Homo sapiens: one gene and its partners. The protein of the gene in region 1 purifies or fractionates together with the protein of each later gene. This does not show direct contact. Each region holds a gene or a part of one and is shown on either strand. Other genes may lie near its edges.

Region 1 (7,680 bases):
TGAAGTAAAACTAAATTAAAAATTCAGTTCTTAAGTCACACCAGCCATATTTCAAATGTTCAATAGCCTGAAGGGGCTAGTGGATAATTGGACAGCACAGATATAGGATATTTCATATATACATATATGGAATATTCTACTGGATGACCCTCAGAATTTAGAGGTTGTATGTCTGGGTCCTTCTTAATTCTGAGAGGTCAGCTCAAATGTCTCCTCTTCAGAAAGGCCTTCCCTGACCACCTGGTCTAATGTTGACTCTCCTGGTCCCGACTCCTCCCCCATTACATTCTTCCAGTTGGTCTTCATCAGAACAATGATTGCTATTCATTTCTCTTCACATTTGTATGTATTCGTTTTTAAAAATCTCTCCACTTTGACTGTAAGCTCCATTGACAACAGGCACCTTAACTGCTTTATTCAGTACCATATTCCCAGGACCTAACACAGCGCCTGGCACACAATGGGGGCTCAATAAATAAATGCTGTGTGTGCCAGGCACTGTGTCTGGCATTGAAAGCACAGCAGGGGTCCGTGGGACAGGGAGAATCCAATCCTGAACATGCATGCCATTTTGTGACTGTGTGACCTTATGCAAATCACCAGCCTCAGTTTCCCCAGCTGTCAAGTAGAAAAAGTAATAGTTCATCTCTCATTGCGCAGTTGAAGAATTCAAGATGATCCTGCATTTCAAACCGTGCAGCACAGCAGGTGGCATGGAGAGCACTCAGTCAGTGGGAAATGTTATTATTAATTATTAGCTACAACAGGAGGTCCCTCTGCCTCCCTAGCTAGTTTCCCCAACTACAGGGCAAGCAGTTGGATTAGCTCAGTGGTTTGCAGTTAGGGACAGAAGTTGTCGGTGAGCACAGGATCATTTTAGATGGTAGAGAGATGAGATTTAAGTAACGTTAAATCGCACACTCAGACGCTGAACCAGCATCCAGTTCTCTTTTAAACCTGATTTTGTCAAGGATAAAGTCTCAGGATGGTGCTAATATGGTTTTAACACCTCCCTAATCCTCACTGAGCTCACTTTTCAAAGCCAGGAGGACACAGAAGCCTCATCAGGCCACCTAACATTTATTACACTGAACCATCTGCAAAAGTTGTTTTAGGAAGGTCAAAAAGGGTCAAGTATCAGCAATTTCAGGTGGTCCAACCCAATAAACATATTATTTTCTTTTCATTGTGCAGGATTTATTTCCTTCCTTACCTTCTATTTATGACAAAGAATTCTATTCTCTATTCAGGACAGTAATATAAAGTTGAACATGCTTTTGTTTGAGTGAAAAAAGAAGAAAAAAAGCTAACTTTAAGCAAATGATTAGGTCAAAAGTTATAAAAATGGTTTTCAGAGCCTCAAGTCCAGGATATGGACAGGGAAAACAACCTTGATTAGGATTCTGACTCAGGCATCGCCGGTGTCATTGGAGCAGGAGCCTTCTGTCTTTGAGTCCTAGGTTTCTCTGCCATGAAATTGGAGTAATTACAATGCACCTACCTCGCCAGGTTGTTGAGGACTCCACAAGGCGTAGCGTGTGGGTCTCCTAGCCTAGGGTGTGGCACTCAGGAGTGGCACGGGCATGAATCCAGGGAGTGTCGCCAGAGGAGAAAAGCCACCCCACCTTCAGGCCAAGGATGGTGCCAGGTGCCAGGCACCCACAGATCCCTCCTTTTTCAGGTCTTGGCTCAAGGGTCAAGCCCTTTGGGAAGGCCTCTGGTCGGGAAGCCGCCATTACATCTCTAGGCCCCTGGCTTGGCTCCTTGAAGTCTTCACCTCATGTCAAGATAATTATTAACTAATTATTTGGATAATTGTTTGAATAACATCTGCGTCTGTCCCCGCTAGACTCCAGGTGCTGAGAGCAGGGACTGTGTCTCTGCTTGTACAGCACCCAGCACAGTGGCCGGTGTTTAATAGCTGTTTGTTGAATGAATAAATGATTCATGAACGGGGTTTCCAGAGAACCTGCCTACAACGGCAGGGAAAGATGGGAAAGATCCATAAGGATCTTAAGGACTACCAATTTGGGGTGAGGTCACATAGGTTTGGGGTCAACCCAAGGATTAAAATAACAATCTAGAAGGTTCTGGAAGGGGCTGAGTATGAAGACAGAATACTAGAGGCCGGGCTCGGTGGCTCATGCCTGTAATCCTGGCACTTTGGGAGGCTGACGCGGGCTACTTGAAGTTAGAAGTTCGAGACCAGCCTAACCAACATGGCGAAACCCCGTCTCTGCTGAAAATACAAAAATTAGTTGGGCGTGGTGGCGGGCGCCTGTAATCCCAGCTACTCGGGAGGCTGAGGCAGGAGAATCGCTTCAACCCGGGAGGCGGAGGTTTCAGTAAGCCAAGATCGTGCCACTGCCTTCCAGCCTGGGAGACAGAGCAAGGTTCCATCTCAAAAAAAAAAAAAAAAAAAAAAAGGAATACTACTAATAAAGTAATAACGGCTAAGTGGCTAACTTTCAAGTCCCTTCTACCTGCGACATACTGAAGGCTCGACGCATTACCTCGTTTCAATATTCACAGTGACCTTCTCTGGTAAGCACTTATAGATTAAGCCCATTTTCCAGATGAAAACAATTTAGGCACAAAGCAGCTGCTAGGCTACTGGCTCAAAGCGGCAGCGTCAGGACGCGAACCCATGTCTTTCAGCTTTCCAGAGAGGACAGGAAGCCTTGAACGCGGGAGGGGCTGCTGCGAGGGTATTTTGGGAGGTGAAGGGTCTGGGGTCGGAGGGCCAACCTCAGCCGGGAAACCAGGTCACCCAGGGACAAGCAGGAAGAGCTCTGAGCTGTCCCCACTGGACCCGGCCCCGAGTGGGCGGGGGGCGGAGCTCGCGGCTCCCACGCCCCCTCCCCCTCCGGCCTGACCCCTCCTACCATTGTCCCGAATGGCCGCCGCGCCTCCACCCCCGCGCATTCTTACCTCCTGACAAGGCCAAGGTCAGGGAGGCGATCACTAGGGCCAGGGGCCACATGGCTCCGGGATCGGGAGGGGAGGGCAGGGCGGGCGGGGCCTGAGGAGAAGGTGAAGGGGGTGTTGAGGGCGTGCCCGGAACCTCCGCGTCTGAAACCTCTCTGCTCCTGAATGTCTCCTCGCCTCATTCACTCTTGACAGCCCTGACCCTGGAATCTGCCCCCCGCCTCCAATTCCATCCTTGGTGGGGGTGCAGTGGCGAGGTGGGAGGAACAGTGTGCAACCTCCTGGGGCTCCGGCGTGCAGCCCCTCACCCCAGGAAGCCGTCCCTCCTCCCCTGCCCTCTGGCGAGCTGGGTGGTCGGTGCACTCTCGCCCTTTTCCTCCAGAGTCTGCCTTCCATTCTACCCCTCTGGGTCTGTCCACACGCTTGGTATTAGCCCAAGTTCTTATCTGTCCGCGCCCTTCGCCTCTCTCCGTCTCTGCAGGTTTCTCTCTAGATCTGAGACTCTAGCTTCACTCTCCCTCTCCCTGACTCAGCTGCCCTTCTGCTTTCCCCATCCTTCCTATCCCCTCTTCTCTCCCCTCCCTGCCCTCCTCCGCTCCCCGCCCCCGCCCCAGGCAGACCCTACCTGAGTGAGGGGCCCACGAGGAGCGTCAGCCGCCAGCTGTCTAGAACTTCAGCCCCGAACCATGGCTTTTAACCCCTGAACTCCCTCCCCCAGCTCACTCAGCATTTCCTGGTCCCTGGCCTCCCCCTCTCCACCCCCAGTGGCTCAGCGGGATGTCTCCAGGCACCCCCGACCTGGGCTTGGCCCTCTGCTTGGGGCGGAGCTTCCAGGACGTGCTGGGACCTAGGTCTGACCCCGCCCAAGGCAGAGTTGAACCCACTGTGAACTTTCAGGCCTCAGGACCCAAAAAAGGGTAAGGGGAAAGCCCATTTCCTTCCCCCTACCCCGCTGAGTTCCATGCCCATCCCTAACTTCAACCCATTCTGCACCCAGTTTTCTAACCTCTTCTCCAACCCCATGCATAATTCTTAATAGGCAGTCAGCCCCCAGATGGCCGTGTTCTATCAGATTCCCACCTCCCTATCCATCCCTAACCATACCAAGTACTCCAGCCTGTTCCTCAACCCCAGTCCCATCTCCAACCTCATCTCAGGTTTAGCTCTCAACACATCCAGGTTCCAATTCCCAGTCTCATCTCAACCCTTTTTCTTTTGAAAGACACAAGGACACCCACAATTATCCCATCATCCTGCCTCCCTGCTCCCGCCAACCACCGGACACAAGAAGGAAATCATCAGCTGGGTGGATAGAAAATCAGCTCCCTCGGACTTGGATGGGGGCAGAGATGCGACCTGAGAAAGCAACATTTTCCAGAAATGGCCTTTTAGGAGCAGGGCCAGAGGGGGTGAGGGAGTCCACGGGGACCTAGGTGGAGAGGAAAAAGCAGGAGCCGGAAAGCTTTGAAGACGTGGATTGGGGGTGGGGGAGAGGAAGGAGGAAGGGGTGGTGTTTTGAGAATGAGTAGGTGTCTCCAGGAACTATGACTGGGTGGAGCCCTGAGTTAATCCTAGGGGGTGGAGGGGACAGGATTAGGGATTAAGGACTGAGGTGGGGTCAGAATTTGGAAGAAAGCCAGGGACGTGGACCAGATGAAGTTTGGAAAGAGTGAGAGAGTGGAGGTGTCACAATGAGGATAAAGAATAGAGATGGATGGGGCGAGGGCTCACATGGAAACTTGTACAGTCCTTATTGATGGAGTTCAGATTTGGATGTGGAGATCAAATCTAGTGTCAAAGGGTAACTTTTAAAACATGGTCTTACCATGACTCTCTGACATATATGAAATGAACATGTGTCAAAGATTGTATCTTGACTCATTAATAAATGGCAGAGCCAGTAAGATGTTACAAAGAGCCATATGCACAGAGACAACGAGGAATGCTGAAATGAATTTACAAATAGATGCAAAACTGGCTATTCCACACTGGGAGGAGGAGGGAAATCCATTGTACTTCCACCTGGCAAAATTCATGTAAACATTTATGGACAAGAATTATTTGCATTGCTCTCAGATACCTACAATTTAGAGTCATAAAGTGGCTCAAAGACAGGAAAGGGTACAGAGACCTCATAAAATCAGATAACCCATCTAACTTTGCATTGGCGACACCTCAGTGTCCAATGTTGGGTCCATTTCAAAGTATTTTGCTAAGAAGAAAAATATGGCTTAATATAGGAAATCAGTAGAGTCTATGGTTAAGGATGGGCCTGATGACAACATTAGGAATGCAATGAGTTTGGGGAGGTGAATGAAAATTGGATGAGGATGGGTATAGAGTTGGAGGTGGTAGTTGAGCTGGTTTTGGGATAGGATTAGATTGTAAGATGGGAGGTATCTAGGGATAAGTTGGTGTTGGGGTACTGTTGGGTTGGGGCTGAAGATGGAACCAAGATTGAGGTTTTGGATGGGGAAATGTTAAGATGTGGTTGAGCTGGGGTAGTGGGTTGACATGGGTGATGAGGACTGGCCATGAGGTTGAGTGTCTATGATGCAGTAGGTTTTGGTGGGGGTGAGCTGGGTCATACCCCACCTCTCAAGGTGAAAGAAAGGTCACTGTCTTTCTCCACCCTGGACTTCTCCCACCTCACAGGGCGGGGTCTGAGTTCACTTTTTGAGTGGAATTGTGTTCAGGTGGTGTGGCTGGAGGTAGGATGCCAGGTTAAGTGCGGCAACCAGCTTATGTGGGAAATCGGGGTACTTGTACCCTCCTGTGACCTGGGTCCATGCTTCCAGAGAAGCCTTTCTCACTTGGGAAAAGCTGGAGCCTGGAGTGAGGGTGGTTGGCCTTGTTATTTGCTGAGGGGTGAGTGCCAGGTCAAATTGATGTTAGGGGTTATGATTGGCCGAACGCGGGTTGGGTAGCTCTGGTTGAAGTGAGGTCATGGACCCACTGAGGGCTGGGCACCTTCCACCCCCTCACTTGATGAACAAGCCCACGGCTGAAAGTCACACACAAACTGGACCAAATCCAAGTGCGCTTCTGTCACAGGTGCAGGTCTTTCCTCCACCACAGAGAACCGGGCTGGAGAAAGAAGAAGAAAGGACCCGAAAAAGAGATGGTGTTCCTAGTGGTTCTGACCTCAGACTCTGGAGCTAGACTGCCTGAGTTCAGATGATGTGACTGCTCTGTGCCTCAGCATCCCCATTTGTAAAATGGCACAATCAATAGCACTTGCCTTATGGAGAAGGGTTAACTGGATTAATACCCAAAAATGCTTCGAAGAGAGTGTGGCATGGACCAAGGGCCACAATGCTCCTGTTAAATAAGTAAAGCTTAAGATGGAGGCATCTGACGGTTCCAGGAGGCCCCTCCCTATCTTGGCTTCAAAATGGGATTCTTTGTCAAGCAGGAACTGGAACTTCTGGTTGGAAGTGCTAGCTGGGATGAGAAAGTAGGCCCCACACCCAGGCCCAGAGGAGGGGCCCCAACGCAAACATGAAGGGAGGGGAAGACTGAGAGATACAAAGGGCTAAATACACAGAGACAGAAAGATGGGGCAGGTGGGAGAGGACAGAAAGAAAATTCAGAGGACAGAGGCACAGAGATAGAAAGAGAGAGATGCCCAGTGAGAAGCAGACTCTTGGTGAGAAAGAGGCACAGAGAGTTGAGAAACATGGATTCTTCTTTAGAGCTGGATCCGTGTTATTCAGGATGTGGCTCCAGTCATCATGCATCCCAGGCAGCAATAACACATCGCTTTCATCCATCAGAATAGCAAAAATTAGAAAGGTCGGTCTTGCCACCTACCTGCGTGCCCACATCCTCTGTCTCCTCTCCCATTTCTCTAGATGAACAGTCTGCACCTGCAGCTAAGATAGATGCCTCCACTGGTGCTGGTATCCTGTCCTCTCTTGCCTTCTGGAGGGCATTGCTCCAGCCAGCAGTTCTCTGTTCTCTTTCCTGCAACATGTTTTCCTTCTTCTCCAAGGAGCAGCCCCATTAGCATGCAAATATACTACAGTTTCTCCCATCTCTCGTTAAAATTTGAAAACCAACCAACAAAAATTTCTCCCCACTCTCATGTTCTCCTTCAGCTCCTGGCCCATTTTCTGCTCTGTACAACTGCAATCCTTCCCTAAAAAGTTGGCTAAGCTCACTGCCTGCAATTCCTGTCCTCCCGTCCTCCCTGGAGCCCACACTATGAAGGCTTTCTCTCCCATTGCTGTACCAACCATGCCCCTGTTTAGGGCAACAGTGACCTCCACGGTACTGAATCCAAGGGCCGTCTCTTCAGGTTCATCTTACTGGAGTTATCAGCAGCATTTAACAAGTGGACTACTCCCTGTTTCTTTCCTTGGCTTCTGGGACACTATGCTCTCCTGGTTTTCCTCATCACTCACTGGTTGATTCTCATCCGTGTCTGGAGGTGGTTTCTTCCTGTCTCCCCAGTCTCTACATGGTGGAGCACCTCAGGCTTCGGTCCTTGGCCTTCTTCTCTCCTCTGTCTATATTCACTCCCTCGGTGATCTCATCTGGTCTCGTGGCTTTAAATACCATCTACATGTTGACGACTCCCAAATTTATGTCTCCAGCCAGGTCTGACTCTCAAACTCTCCACTTAACATCCAGCTGCCTACTCAACATCTCCATGTTCAAAACCAACTTCTGTTCTCTGCCCTTCCCATGTTCCAAACATACTTCTCTTGTGGGTCTTGGGCTTCTCAGCGGATGTTCACACCATCCTTT
Region 2 (7,523 bases), on another chromosome or scaffold:
TTTGGAAATAGTTCTTCAATCTTATTTAAATCCAGGTGGGATGGCAGAGAATGCCAGACTACAGAACCCCTTCCTAGGTCTCCCTGCCCAGTAAACCTATTTTGAGAAGAAGCCATTGAGGTTAGGAATGACTTGCCCTTTGGTGAAGCTATATGGGCTCACACTTTCATTTTGTAGATACTAACACCACAAGTGGTCAGGCAATTTGCTCCACTGAAGGTATCAGCCAATGCAATCAAACAAGAGAAAACGATTAGAGAGATGAACATTGGAGAAAGAAGTACAACTATTTCTATTTATAGGTGATGTAGTATAGCTATAGATGACTTAAAAGAATCAATAAAAAATACAAATAGTAAAAAATTTCAGTAAGGCAGCAGGTTATAAAGTTAATACATAAAAACAATTTTCTCATCCACAAACAAAAGCTAGTTGGAAAATATAATGGAAAAAACTTGCTTACATACAATATCAACAAAGAGATAAAATAACTAGAAATAAACTAAACAAGAAATGTGCAAATCTTACATGAACAAAACTTTAAAGGAAAAAGGAAAAAAATTATTTGAAGGAACAGAAAGACCCAGCATGTTCTTGGCTAGAACAACTAAATCAAAGTACAAATGTTGGTTTATAACAGGGTAATATGTAAATTCAATATGTTTCTAATAGATTACCAACAAGATTTATTTTTATTTTCATTTATTTTATTTTTATTTTATTTTATGTTTTTGAGACAGAGTCTCGCTCTGGTGATCCACTCACCTCTGCCTCCCAAAGTCCTGGGATTATAGGCGTGAGCCACTGCATCTGGCCTGTTTGACTACAGTTTAATTTTATTTTTTTAATTATTATATATATATTTTTTTGAGACAGGGTCTCGCTCCATCATCCAGGCTGGAGTATAATGGCACCATCTCAGCTCACTGTAACCTCTGCCTCCCAGGTTCAAGCAATTCTCCTGCTTCAGCCTCCCAAGCAGCTGGGATTATAGGCACACGCCACCAGGTCCAGCTAATTTTTGTATTCTTAGTAGAGATGGGGTTTCACCATGTTGGCCAGGCTGGTCTTGAACTCCTGACCAAGTGATCTGCCTGCCTTGGCCTCTCAAAGTACTGAGACTACAGGTGTAAGCCACCATGCCCTGCCAACAAGATTTTTTTCTTTAGAGCTAGACAAGTTGACTCTTAAATTTGTATGGGTGAGGCCGGGTGCGGTGGCTGACACCTGTAATCCCAGCACTTTGGGAGGCTGAGGAGGGTGGATCATGAGTTCAGGAGTTTGAGACCAGCCTGGCCAACATGGTGAACCCTCATCTCTACTAAGAATACAAAAATTAGCTGGGTGTGGTGGCATGCGCCTGTAATACCAGCTACTTGGGAGGCTGAGGCATGAGAATCGCTTGAACTCAGGATATGGAGGTTTCAGTGAGCCAAGATCGCACCACTGCACTCCAGCCTGGGTGACAGAGAGGGACTCCAGCTCAAAAAAAAAAAAAAAAGTTTGTATGGGAGAAAAAGCAACAAGGAGAGCCAGGAAAATCTGAAGCAGAAGAGCAGTAAGGAGAATGCGCTGTACGAGATATTGAATCATAAGAGAAAACCTCTATAACTGAAAGAATCTGACCAACAGAACCAAATAGAAAGTTTAGAAAGTTCAGAATCAGACCCAAGTATATGCAGCTATTTGATATATAACATAGGTGGCATGTGAAGACATTAGTGAAAATGGTTTTTCAATAAACAGAGGTGGAAAAACTGAAAGTCACTTGAAAGCGAGTTAAAATTGGATCTATATTTCCCATACACCAGAATAAACTTTAAAGGGATCAGCAATCTAAATATAAAAAATAAAACTGTGCAAATACTAGAAGAAAACATTAGTGAACTCTATAATCTAGAGATTATTCTTTTTTTTAAAAAAAAAGAGATTGCTCCTTGTGAATAGAGAAAGTTTTTCTAACTACGACTCAGAAACAATAAAGGAAAAATCATTAAAGTTGACTACATTAAAAGAGTGTATGCCAAAATCACCAGAAGCAATGTCAGAAAACAGATGACAAGCTGGGGGAAATATTCGCAATTTATATCACTTAAGACTAATTAAGCCACAACTAGGGAGGGGCGTGTGGTTTGCTCCTGGCATCCACTTGGTGAATCTCCTCCAGAGATTCTGTGAAACATGTGTGATGGCAGGACAGCCCCCACAACCACAAGTTATCGGGTTCATGCGGTCAACAGTGTCGCAGTTGAGAAACTCTGCCTTAGGGTAAGCACAGAGGGAGTAAAACAGCTTGAGTTCTCAAAATTGAACTCATGTAAAACACCTGGCTAGTATCTTCCCTACTTCCATTTATGCTAGATGTTTCTGTTTTCCAAGACTGCTCTGTCTGAGATGGCAGATGGAGTTTTCATACTTACTTGGCTAACCTGTCAGTACCCTGGGGTCTAATTCCTATGCCTGGAGAGAACTGGAAGTCCTTGAACACACGGCTCAATGATGTGGGCTCTGCTCATTTATATACATTTATTTTTAAATTTAATATATATTTTAGTTTTTTTATTTCCATAGTTTTTTGGAGAACACGTGGTATTTGGTTACATGGCAAGCTTTTTTTTTTTTTTCCTGAGATGGGGTCTTGCTCTGTTGCCCAGGCTGGGGTGCAGTGGCATGATCTCAGCTCACTGCAACCAACCTCCGCCTGCTAGATTCAAGCAATTCTCCTGCCTCAGCCTCCTCAGTAGCTGGCACTACAGATGTGTGCCACCATGCCTAATTTTTTTATATTTTTAGTAGAGACGGGGGTTTCACCATGCTGGCCAGGCTGGTCTCGAACTCCTGACCTCATGATCTGCCTGCCTTGGCCTCCCAAAGTGCTGAGATTACGGGCATGAGCCACTGCGCCCTGCCAAGTAAGTTCTTTAGTGGTGATTTGTGAGATTCTGGTGCATCTATCACCTTAGCAGTATACACTGAACTCAAATTTGTAGCCTTTTATCCCTCACTCCCTTCCCACCCTTTTCCCCCAAGTCCCCAAAGTCCATTGTATCATTCTTATGCCTTTGTATCCTCATAGTTTAGGTCCTACTTATGAGTGAGAACATACAATGTTTGGTTTTCCATTCCTGAGTTACTTCACTTAGAACAACAGTCTCCAATCCCATCCAGGTTGCCAATGCCATTAATTCATTCCTTTTTATGGCTGAGTAGCATTCCACCGTATACGCATACCACAGTTTCTTTATCCACTCTTTGATTGATGGGCATTTGGGTTGGTTTCATGTTTTTGCAATTACGAATTGTGCTGCTATTAACATGCGTGTGCAAGTATCTTTTTTGTATAATGACTTATTTTCCTCTGCGTAGATACCCAGTAGTGGGATTGCTGGATCAAATGGTAGTTCTATTTTTAGTTATTTAAGGAATCGCCATACTATTTTCCACAGTGGTTGTACTATCCATCAGCAGTGTAGAGGTGTTCCCTCTTCACCAAATCCACGCCAACATCTATTATTTTTTGAGTTTTTGATTTTTTGATTAAGGCCACTCTTGCGGGAGTAAGGTGGTATCACATTGTGGTTTTGATTTGCATTTCCCTAATCATTAGTGATGTTGAGCATTTTTTCTTGTTTGTTGGCCATTTGCATATCCTCTTTTGAGAACTGTCTATTCATGCCAGCCCACTTTTTGATGGGATTTTTTTTTCTTGCTAATTTGTTTGAGTTTCTTGTAGATTCTGGATATTACTGCTTTGTCGGATGTATAGATTGTGAAGATTTTCTCCCACTCTGTAGGTTGTCTGTTTACTCTGCTTGACTATTCCTTTTGCTTTGCAAAAGCTATTTAGTCTACTTTTTTTTTTTTTTTTTTTTTTTTTTTTTTTGAGACGGACCAGACTGGAGTGCGGTGGCGCCATCTCGGCTCACTGCAGCCTCTGCCTCCCGGGTTCAAGTGATTCTCCTGCCTCAGCTTCCCCAGCAACTGAGATTACAGGCACGCGCCATTACACTCGGCTAATTTTTGTATTTTTAGTAGAGACGGGGTTTTGCCATGTTGGCCAGGCTGGTCTGGAACTCCTGACCTCCAGTGATCCGCCTGCCTCGGCCTCCCAGTGTTGGGATTACTGGCGTGAGCCCCGCGCCCGCCCCTGGCTGGCTTCTTTGCCGCAAGCTGTTTCATCAGCAAAGTCTTTGTGACCTGTATCTAGTCTGCTCATTTTTAAATGCGTGTTCTGCACTCCCCAGTGGATGGCCGTGTATCAGGAGCCGGCCCTTTTCTGGAAACAGGCCAGCATTCAGTCTCCACAGAGGCACCATAAACACGCTGGTGGGGCCCTGTACTGTGGTCAAAGTCAAGGCCTCCGGGCAGGACTCGCGGCCCCTCCGGCTGGCGGGTGGGGTTGACCCGCACGTCCCGCCCCGCCTCTCCCTTCGCGCTCCGGACGGGCGACGGTAGCTCGAGACCCGGGACTCCGCCCGCCTCCCCGCGAGTATTTGAGGTCCGGGGCGGCTCCGGCGCCTCTGCCCGCCGTTCTGCTCGCTCGCTCCCCGCTCTGGAGTACGTGTCTGGCTTGGGAGCCGCTCGGACACGCTGGCTTGGGTTTGTCGCTCCAAAGTCGGGAAAGCCGGGGGCGCGAGCGGGGAGGGGGGCAGGGTGGGGGTCGCGCGGGGCCGGGAACGCGCGTGGGTCGACGGCGCGCGGGGACGCTGGAGCCCCGAGAATGGGGCGTGGCCGCGCGGGGCTGTGACCCCAGCAGTCCCAGCGGGGCGGGGGCCCGGGCGAGCGTCCGGCTTGGGTTCCCTTCCGGAGCCTCGCAGCGGCAGAGAACGGCGACGCGGCCGGGTGAGTCGTGCGTGGCCGCGAGCCCGGCCGGTGACGCCGCGGACCCGAGGACCCCGGGCGCCCAGGCCCAGCGCCCACGGAAGAGGCGGCCGGCGCGGGATGGGGGCGGCGCAGAGCCTCCCGGGCCACAGGTGACCCCGGTCGGCCCCGCGGCCTCGGTGACCCCTCGCCCGCTCCGCGACCCGGAGGACGCGTGCTCAGTCTTGGGGCGCCGGGTGTTAGGAGCCGGGCGGGAGGCGGAGAGAGGCCGAGGGGTTCGGCGCCAAACGGTGCCATCCGGGCCCCCTGCGTGTGTTCACTGGACTGGCCGTGCTGGGCTTGGCCAATCCGCAGCACTTTCAGGTCGCCCAGACCTGTGGAGACGATCGTGTGGACCAGCCCGGATCTCCTTACCGCTCTGTGTTTGAATTAAACTCCCTACAGGCAAACTATTACAGGCTTTGATGTCTTCAAGGCAAAGAGGAAACTTTAACTACAAATTGGCATTTAAGTTATTTTCTTCCTTTTTTTTTTTTTTTTTTTTGTCCTAAAGATTGGCTTCGGAAAACTGAGGTACAGAAAATTAATAATTAATGTTCACATGCTGTCAGGAATACTCAGATGCGAGGGGGCATCTGAGTCCATTTTTTGGGCACTTTTGCTTTCTGGGATGCTCTCGTGCCTAATGACAGCCCTGCAGCTGCCTGCATCCTTTCTGGTGGGGGTCAGGCCTGATGCGATGAGATCTGATGTGTTCAGTGACCTTCTAGTTAAGGTCCTGGGCCGGCCTTGTATTGCTGGGGCTTTTATGTGTGCTGGGATTAACACCAGTGACTGCTGTTATCAGCATAGATGGCGTTTGTTCTCATTTCAGGACCGTATCTGAGTAATTGCATCCATTGTGATGTGCCACCAAAGAGAAAAGTACTTTGGTCATACTCGACTATGTAAACTAAGTATTTTAAGTTAAGGCCAATTCCAATGCATTTTATTACAATTCAGCATGAAACAGTTAACACGGACCAGTAACAGTAGAGTGAAATTAGCATGAATAGAACCAACATTCTTTTCCACATATGTAATAATAAGGGCACCCAAGCAGATGTTGTACGGTCCCAGGGAAGACCACACACCTTACATTTCCAGGCTTACTGCACTTGGGATTAAGCCAAGGCATCCAAAGAAAGAAAATTTTTTTTTTTTTTTTTTTTGCCAGGCTGGAGTGCAGTGGTGCGATTTCGGCTGACTGCAACCTCCACCTCCCGGGCTCCATACCTGGCTAATTTTTGTATTTTTAGTAGCAATGGGGTTTCACCATGCTGGCCAGGCTGGTCTCAAACTCCTGACCTCGTGATCTGCCCGCCTTGGCCTCCCAAAGTGCTGGGATTACAGATGTGAGCCACTGCGCCTAGCCTGAAAATAATGTTTAACTCCCATTTATATGTTAGGCTGCTCAGATATATTAAACACATACACACACAACACACACACACACACACATACACACTGCACAAGGAAACAGAGGGACAAAGCAGGAAGTCCAAGTTTCCATTAAACCAGTCTTTAAATGGTTAAATTTAGTAGGAAATAAAGGCATCCTTAATAGAAGTTGAGAAGCACAATTCAATAGTGACACCTAAAAAAAAATTAAGACTTGATTAGTTGAATAAAATCAATTGTGAACATTGCTCAGTTACTGGTGATGCTACAGGAAAAAAAAAGTGATGCCAGGATAGATTTGTTAGGCTTGTTTAAAAAATACATAAAATTGTTCATTAATAAGACTTTAATATCCAGTTTTTATGTCTGTGATTAAATATCATTTTTTATTTTTAAATGGTATAGTTTTTAAATTTTGAAACAATTAATTTTGCATAAATATTTGTCTATGTACATATATACATGTGTATTCACATATATATATGAAGGACACTTAGCTATCTTATTTACTGAAGCTAAAGAAGTAGGTCCTTAAAAAGCCATTGACAGGTCTTGAGTTTGCAACGTGACTGTGAAACAGGCATCCTTGTTACTCACACGTTTGCTGAAAGGATAACAGAAAGCCCTCGATAGAAAAATCTCACTAGATTGTTTATAATTTGTTGATATTTGGAGTATCTTGAGTGGTAAACTTTAAATGTGGATTTATTTTTTCTTTCCTTTTAGGATTTGGATCTCTCCAATCTTTTTTATGATTAATTGTTCAGTGTTTATGCATTATTGCGAAGTGATAATGAAAATGCTCAAACTCAGGGTCCTGCAGGCACTGTGGGGGAGGCAGTGGGGACGTGAGGGGATTACAGATCCAGTAGAAGCCCCCCGACCCCCATCTGCTTCCACCCCATCTCCTTCCAGAACACCACCGATAGCCACACCGAAGAGTTCTCCCATTTGCTGGTTCCCGGACAAAAAAGCTGCTGATCCCTTGAGCACACTGCAGTGAAGCTCCCAGCTGACATGTCCTGTCCATGTAAACAGAACTTCCTCCATGTAAACAGAACTTCCAGCATTGTTTGTGTTTTCCTCTTAACTATGTACTGACATCCAAGGGTTGTTAGGAATGTTTGGAAAGTCTAGGTACAAAAGAGAGACCTAAATAAAATAAAGCAAACACCAGCCACCATAACAAAAGGACCCCAGAGATAGGCAGCGCAGGGAACGGAAGACTCAATAAACTATAATTGTGGTATCCAAAGAATTAG
Region 3 (7,022 bases), on another chromosome or scaffold:
TCCCCTAATCTCACTGTTAGAGCAACAACTCAGGTGTGGGCATATACTCAGACTGCTGTATGAAGTCCAAAGTGGATAACTGCCAGTAAAATCCTTAAAAAAATCCTATCAATGGTAGCAGAAAACACATTTCCTATCTGGGAATGCTTGCTAAGGTTAACCCAACATTCTTAGAACTCTTTTGCATATTGACGGAATCAAATCATAATTAAATGACCATCACCATGTGCTTTAACAATATTCACCATATGTTTAAAATAGTTATTTCTTGGTATCTGGACATCACTGGACACAGTAGAATGATTTTTTCACAGTCAGAAAAACAAGAATGAAAAGAGAAGCCTCTGGATGCTACCCTTGCAGAGACCTAAATATTAAACCAAATAGATTATTTTTCCTACTGTATAGACATTTTTTGTTTTGTTTTATTTTGAGACAGAGCCTCCCTCTGTTACCCAGGCTGGAGTGCAGTGGCACAATTCTGCTTACTGCAACTTCCGCCTCCGGGGTTCAAGTGATTCTCATGCCTCAGCCTCCCAAGTAGCTGGGATTACGGGCGTGCGTCACCATGCCCAGCTAATTTTTTGCATTTTTAGTAGAGACAGGGTTTCACTATGTTCAGGCTGTTTTTGAATTCCGAGCCTCAAGTGATCTGCCCACCTCAGCCTCCCAAACTGCTGGGATTACAGGCGTGAGCCAGCATAGACATGTCTGGCCCTGCATAGACATTTATTCGTTATTCACAACTAACCTAATGGAAAAAAGCAGCCAGCATGACAGGGCTACCTGCAACGTGTTCCCTGGAAGACCTCTTGGTAACACTGCTGTTTACATCTCACAAATGCAAGGGTGGAGTCAGAAGGAGGTTATTTCATGCAACAGCCTTCCTTTGCTTCATGGCCAACGCACAAGAGCCTGAAGCCTGCGGGCAGGACAGATGACCAGGTGATCATTGGGGAGTACTGCCCACTGAGAGTGCAGCAGGAAAGGTGTCTGGAAACAAAGCATGCAAAGACACAGAGCAAGTCACTCATTCATCAGGCCAAAGACACGAGGAAGACATGAGTCTCAGAGAAGTGCTCACCTGTACTTCTGTGACAAATATTACCCAATGCCACAACCACAGCCACCTCGTGTCCCGAAAGTCAGCTCCATTCCTGCCACTGTGCTTAGCGCCTAAGATATACTCTTCGCTTCATCCTCACAACACTTCAGGGGTGGCCCTTAAGCCTAAACACCTTTAGGCCCAACTCACGGATGGGCTTGGAGATGTTTAGAAATTTGGCTTTGGCTCATACCCTCCAATATGTAGCCTCTAGATTCAAACCAAAGCCCGCTGGCCTCCAAATCCTCCACACTCTTAATTACTATACAGTGGAGGAAAAGGAGGAAACACATATTTTAAAATGACAAATTTTGAAATAAAGGTAACTATAAACCTTTGAAAAAGAAGTTAAATCGCAAACAGAGTTCAATTAGGCATGTTTGAAAAGTCATGGCACACTTGTTCTGTGATTCTGCTGAGTTTTATCCAGCTCAGCTTAAGTTATTCGCTTGGACTCTTGTGTAAATCTCTCTACCTTCTCAATCCAAAGGTCAGTACTAATTTTAGATTTCAGTCCCAGAAAAAAACAAGTGTCTGAGGAAGGAACTAGGGGGCCAAAGGCATAAAACCATGATTCAAACGTACCACACAGATACTGGCCTCTTTCTGTATCATGTGTTTTGGTTGTGATACTAGGGCTATCACGCAGCACGGCGAGGAGGTAGTCTTGAAAGGAGGAGTGTGCTTTGACACAAATTTCTTCTCAAGAAGGTATAAACATTGATGGGATGTAAATCTTTGAATATCCATGGTATCAGCTCACGGTTCACACATCTACAGACCCGGGTCCAGGCTCTGGCACTGACACATAAAGGCTGTGCGACCCTACATATTCACAGGGTGTGCCACTTTGGCATACAGGCTGTGTGACCCCCCACATACTGCGTGACCGTGGACCCTTTATCTCTGCCACACCCTTCCTTCCCAACTACATGAGTGGGAATGATATCAGCATCTAGCTGAGAGGCAGGCACGAGGCTCTAGGAGACCACATAGAGATTCCGTTGGGGGGAAAACAGAAAGAAAGGCAGCTGGGGAACGCCAGGCAGCACGGTCCTCTCCACTCCCTTTCCTCCTAACCAAGGATTGACCATGTGATTTGGGATTCAGCCAATCATAGAACCTCCCTCCTCCGCCCACAGCCATTGGTACACGGAAGGGCATGTGACCACGTGACCTAGCATCAGCCAATCACAGGACCTCACTCCTCTGCCCACAGCCATTGGTATCGGGACGAGCATGTGACCATGTGACTTAGCATCAGCCAATCATAGGACCTCACTCCTCTGCCCACAGCCATTGGTACAGCGAACAGCATGTGACTGAAACTAAGCCAATCAGAATTCCTCCCTAGGATTTCCACCCCCCACCCCCCCCGCCGGCTGGAACTGGCTGAAAAGCCCCTCTTTCCTCCTCACTGAGGAGGCTGTAGGGAGGTAAGCCTGGAGCTACCTACAGTCATGGTCCCGGAGAGGACAACCACAATCAGCAGACAGAAGCAGAGATGAGAGGCAAGGAGAAAGAGAAGAAAGCCTCCAAGTCCTCAGTCTTTGGTTCCAGTCATCTTCAGGGCCAGAGTCACCTCTCCCATGCTTGAGTGGGCAGTGTCAGCCAACAGCTCTCCGCCTTGTTTCCGAGTTATTTTGATTTGGGTTTGTTCTCTTGTAAGCAAAAGATAATGCAGTAGTTAATAGTTCCTATAATCTTAACAGTGACCAAATCCTCAGTAAGAATAACTTCTTGAGTGGATTTCTTATTTAAAAACTGCAGAAATAAATTTTAGTAGAGGAAGCAAACATTGCCTTTATTTACATAGCACTTTCCCCAAAGGAAGAAAGAAACATCCATTTTCATTTGTAGTCACCTTATTCATTTCCGAGTGGGCTTTGTATTTGGCATTAAACTCTTTCACATACCCACATCCACCTTCAAGATTTGGCCCATAAAAACTTAGGATAAAAACAAGTGGTTATTTTTTCTATAGCTATATTTGCTGGAACTACATGGAGGGCGAAAGTTGGGGTAGGGGTAAGAGAAGGCACTGATGCTATTTTTGGTATGCTCTCAAGAGAAATTCCCCAGGTTACGAGTTCACACTAGGGGTTGGGGGTGGGGCACGGTTTACAAAAACAAAGTGCATTTACCAAGATTTGCAGCCGTAACAGGAAATCCTTTCTGACTCTTGATGGGATTTTTTCTTTTATATTAAAGTCTCCTCATATTATTCTTCAAAGAATTAAATAAGAAAAATGGAAAGGCACAATGGATGTAAATTCCAATTCTCAAATGATCTTCTGAAGCAAAGGATAATGTCTTACGTCAAACTGTGGCAAAAGCCTGGGTGTTCCTGATCTAATCTTGAACTAGGGTGTCCACCCCAACCTTTGGAGGAATCCTAGGACATGTTTGCCAAAACATACGAGTGGAATTACAAATAGAGGATTGCTTGGGCTCAGTGGCCATCCTCATGCACAGAAAGAATCCCAGAAGGGATGCCGACTTCCCTGGACTGGGCTTACATCCAGACCTAGAAATCTAACAGCAGAATAAAGGCAAGACTCACTGACTGTAGAAATAGACTTGGCCTGTTGGATGGGAGGTGGTATTTCTCAAAAGAGAAATAAAATCATACTAATCTCTCAGTATTCTTAAATTGGGAACTTGCAGACAAGAGATAACCTAAAGATGTAGTTTATTGCATTTGACTCCATTCTGTATCTAAGGGTATTTTTTAAAAACCCAACATTGGTTTTCAGATTAGGCGTGCAATCTACTCATGAGGAAAGATGGTTTGCAAAGAGAAGATGGGCACATTTATGTGTGGAGAACAGGTTGACAAGATTCAAGTATATGGGACCTAATTTATTTAAAATTTTTATAAATGCTCTAAGTGGGAATACAAACTAAATCTTCATGTTGGCCCATGATGCTGTTTCTGAATATAATGCTGAATGATTTTATAGGCTTAAAAAAGTGAGAGACAAGAACTTTAAGGTGTATGAGCACAGGATAATGCATTTACGAAAAAATTTTATCTAGACTTAACACTTATGAGAAAGCCACATCAAAAGGAAACTGAGCCAAGAATTTATAGGTTTTAAAAATAAGACACCTTTTAGATCATTTATTTCAATATACCCATTATACAGACAAGGAAACTGAGTTCTAGATGGTAACCTACACGCTCTATTGGTGGTGCAGCCCATACCCTCTCCCAGCCTGCTCTTTCCACCAAATGTGACTGACGATACCAGCCAAAAAAGTTCCATGGCAAAAAAAAAAAAAAAGTCACCAAGAGGTCATATATCACCATCACCAAAGTTAATAGAAATAAACCAAAATGCATTCTCCTACCCTGTAAAACCACGAAATGCAGAGTGCAGCCCAGCCAACAGACCTCAAGGAGGGCAGAACCATGCCAAAGGGAGGTTCAGATGAGGATAACTGAAGTGAACACAGGCACACAAGTGCTTCTGTATTAGACTTCCGCTTTTCTCTAAGTAATGTTTTATCTCAAAAGACAAGGTTAATCAAAAATTTAAAATGTCTGAGGATATATATTAAATTTGCTAGTACCAAAATGAGGGCTGGAGGTCTGGCAGAGAGAGCTCCCCTTTGAGTCTGGAATACAAACACTCTTCCATAAAGCATGCAGTAAACTTACAAAAAATATGAATATGGTTTAGTTCAGACATCTGTTAATTGCCTTTGGGCCACACACCACCGCTGGTGCAAATAAAACTAAAACACAGGCACGTCTTTCTGGAGCTTAGAGTCTACTGGATAGGGCATGTTGCTACAACACAAAAAACTGCCATCATTGAGGTAGGCACGGGGAGGGGTGACGTGTGTGTACACTGCACATGTGCCACAGAGGGCTGGGGTGGTGACTGCCAGCAAGGCCTTTTTGAGCCTGAGTCTTGAAAAAGGAGAAATCAGCCAGACAATGAACACAGGAGGAGAAAGGGAATTCCAGGCAGAGGTACAGAAGGAGCAAAGGCAGAAAAGCACTGGGCGGTACCAGTGCAGTTTACGGGAGGTTCAGTTTTGCAAGAAAAGAATGTTTCAGGCAGGGGACAAGGCAAGGAGATGGGAAGGGAGTGAAGAAAGCTTTGACTCTGTTGGGTCATTACAAATGGCCAGCAGCCTGGTGAGCCCATGGAGCACTGTGGAAAGTTCCCTGGCTGCATGCTGACAGGAACTGAGTTCTGGGTCAAGACTCTGCCCTAAGGTGTCTAAATGACCTCAGGAACACACTGTATGACTCTGGATACCACATGTAAAACAAGGTTCCCCATGTTCCAAGGGTGGGGGACTCCCTGGGATGGCCTATGCCTCCATATTTACAGACTCCCCACTGCTGTTTGGGATATAGAATCGACCCTGCCCTATCTCCACCCAGGGGGGCTGCGAGGAAGTGGGGCAGTAGTCAGGCTTGTAGAAATGCTTTGTAAACAGCAGGACTGTCATCAACACTAGAACTCTGTATTAACTACCCTACAGAAGCTCAAAAGCATCTTCAGAAACTCGGGTACAACACTGTATAAAGATAGCGGAGAGCTCATCTTTCAATCTTGAGATACCAAACTTGTGATATGACATGGCCACTCCTTTAGAGTCAGGGATTTAAGCCCAGATCAAGAGGGAGCCATTGAATTTTATTAGGAGGGACCCAAGAAGACTTGGATTTGGGGCAGCAGGAGGAAAGTCACACCAGCAATAACATGGAAGAGAGTTAGAAGGGATGCAACATGAGGTGCACGACACTGTGCAGTAAGCACTAGGCATTCCCAGGCTGTCGATGATCGTCTCAGCCTAGGGTCTCTAGCTCTGAAGCCCATGGGAGCCAGAACGCCACTATAAGCAAGGGTCACAGGTCTGGGGGAACCAGAAAGCAACCTACCTCCAGTGTATTCAGGCACTGGAAACCCAGCAGCAGCTGAGGTTTGCCACATGGGAATGTAAGCTTCCTATTCCAGGTTTTTTTTGTTTTGTTTTTGTTTTTGTTTTGAGACAGAGTCTCACTCTTTCACCCAGGCTCGAGAACAGTGGCGCCATCTCAGCTCACTGCAACCTCTGCCTCCCGGGTTCAAGCGATTCTCCTGCCTCAGCCTCCCGAGTAGCTGGGATTATAGGCGCAGCTAATTTTTGTATTTTTAGTAGAGACGCGGTTTTACCATGTTGATCAGGCTGGTCTTGAACTCCTGACCTCAAGTGATCCGCCTGGTTCAGCCTCCCACAGTGCTGGGATTACAGGTATGAGCCACCACGCACTGCCTCATCCAGGTCTTCTGGCTTTTAGGAGAAGCTATACATCCAAGTGGCATCTCCAGATTTCTAAATATTAACTCAAGTTGTATATACTTTGTTCAGGCCAACAACACTGCTGCCTACTGCTAGAAGTGGCACACCGGCCACCATTTTGCCACTTTTGGGCTCTAAAGCAAGGCAAGGCCAGCGTGACTAGAGCGGACCTTTGTGGAATTTCACAGCATGAAGAAGCAACAGGATCTGGTGACAGCCTGCATGTGGGCAGTGCGGGAGCCTGGCATCACCGTGAGACCCCTGCTCCAACATCTCCATGAACGGTGGAACCACTGCCAAAAAAAAACGGACAAATCTTCGCTAACAATGAAGCGGATATGGGGTGGGTGGTGAAAACTAAAATCAATTTTGGATTTATTTTGGGGTGTTTTTTTGGCCTAAAGGGCACGGGTAAGCGCACCAGACTGCAGGTAACTGATTGGAACACAGGAGCATGCTCAAGCTAGCTTAACATGCCAATCTGGGACTCGCTTCATATTGGTGAGAGTCGAAGCTGTGGGAACATGGTTCACCCAAATACACAGAGCACAAAAGGGATGACAGCGAACCCTGGGTAACCCCAAGAGGTAGCAGAGATGCCAGGGAGGAATAA

The links.
Region 2: the proteins of KLK13 (region 1) and SERPINB6 purify together in Homo sapiens (affinity purification with mass spectrometry; 2 studies listed by BioGRID and IntAct, with this or other methods). This does not show direct contact.
Region 3: the proteins of KLK13 (region 1) and SERPINE2 purify together in Homo sapiens (affinity purification with mass spectrometry; 3 studies listed by BioGRID and IntAct, with this or other methods). This does not show direct contact.

What each region holds. Positions count from the first base shown.
Region 1 is NC_000019.10:51,062,085-51,069,764, forward strand, and holds the start of KLK13 (kallikrein-13 isoform 1 precursor), read right to left. Parts: upstream 3,009-7,680; 5' UTR 2,984-3,008; coding exon 2,932-2,983; intron 2,836-2,931; exon of another isoform or gene 2,514-2,835; intron 1,778-2,513; exon of another isoform or gene 1,502-1,777; intron 1-1,501.
Region 2 is NC_000006.12:2,968,567-2,976,089, reverse strand, and holds the start of SERPINB6 (serpin B6), read left to right. Parts: upstream 1-4,522; 5' UTR 4,523-4,557; exon of another isoform or gene 4,558-4,941; coding exon of another isoform or gene 4,942-4,973; exon of another isoform or gene 4,974-5,285; coding exon of another isoform or gene 5,286-5,332; intron 5,333-5,366; exon of another isoform or gene 5,367-7,278; coding exon of another isoform or gene 7,279-7,311; intron 7,312-7,523.
Region 3 is NC_000002.12:224,029,286-224,036,307, forward strand, and holds part of SERPINE2 (glia-derived nexin isoform b precursor), read right to left. Parts: intron 2,194-7,022; exon of another isoform or gene 1,691-2,193; intron 923-1,690; exon of another isoform or gene 787-922; intron 1-786. UniProt on the Homo sapiens protein: Serine protease inhibitor with activity toward thrombin, trypsin, and urokinase. Promotes neurite extension by inhibiting thrombin. Binds heparin.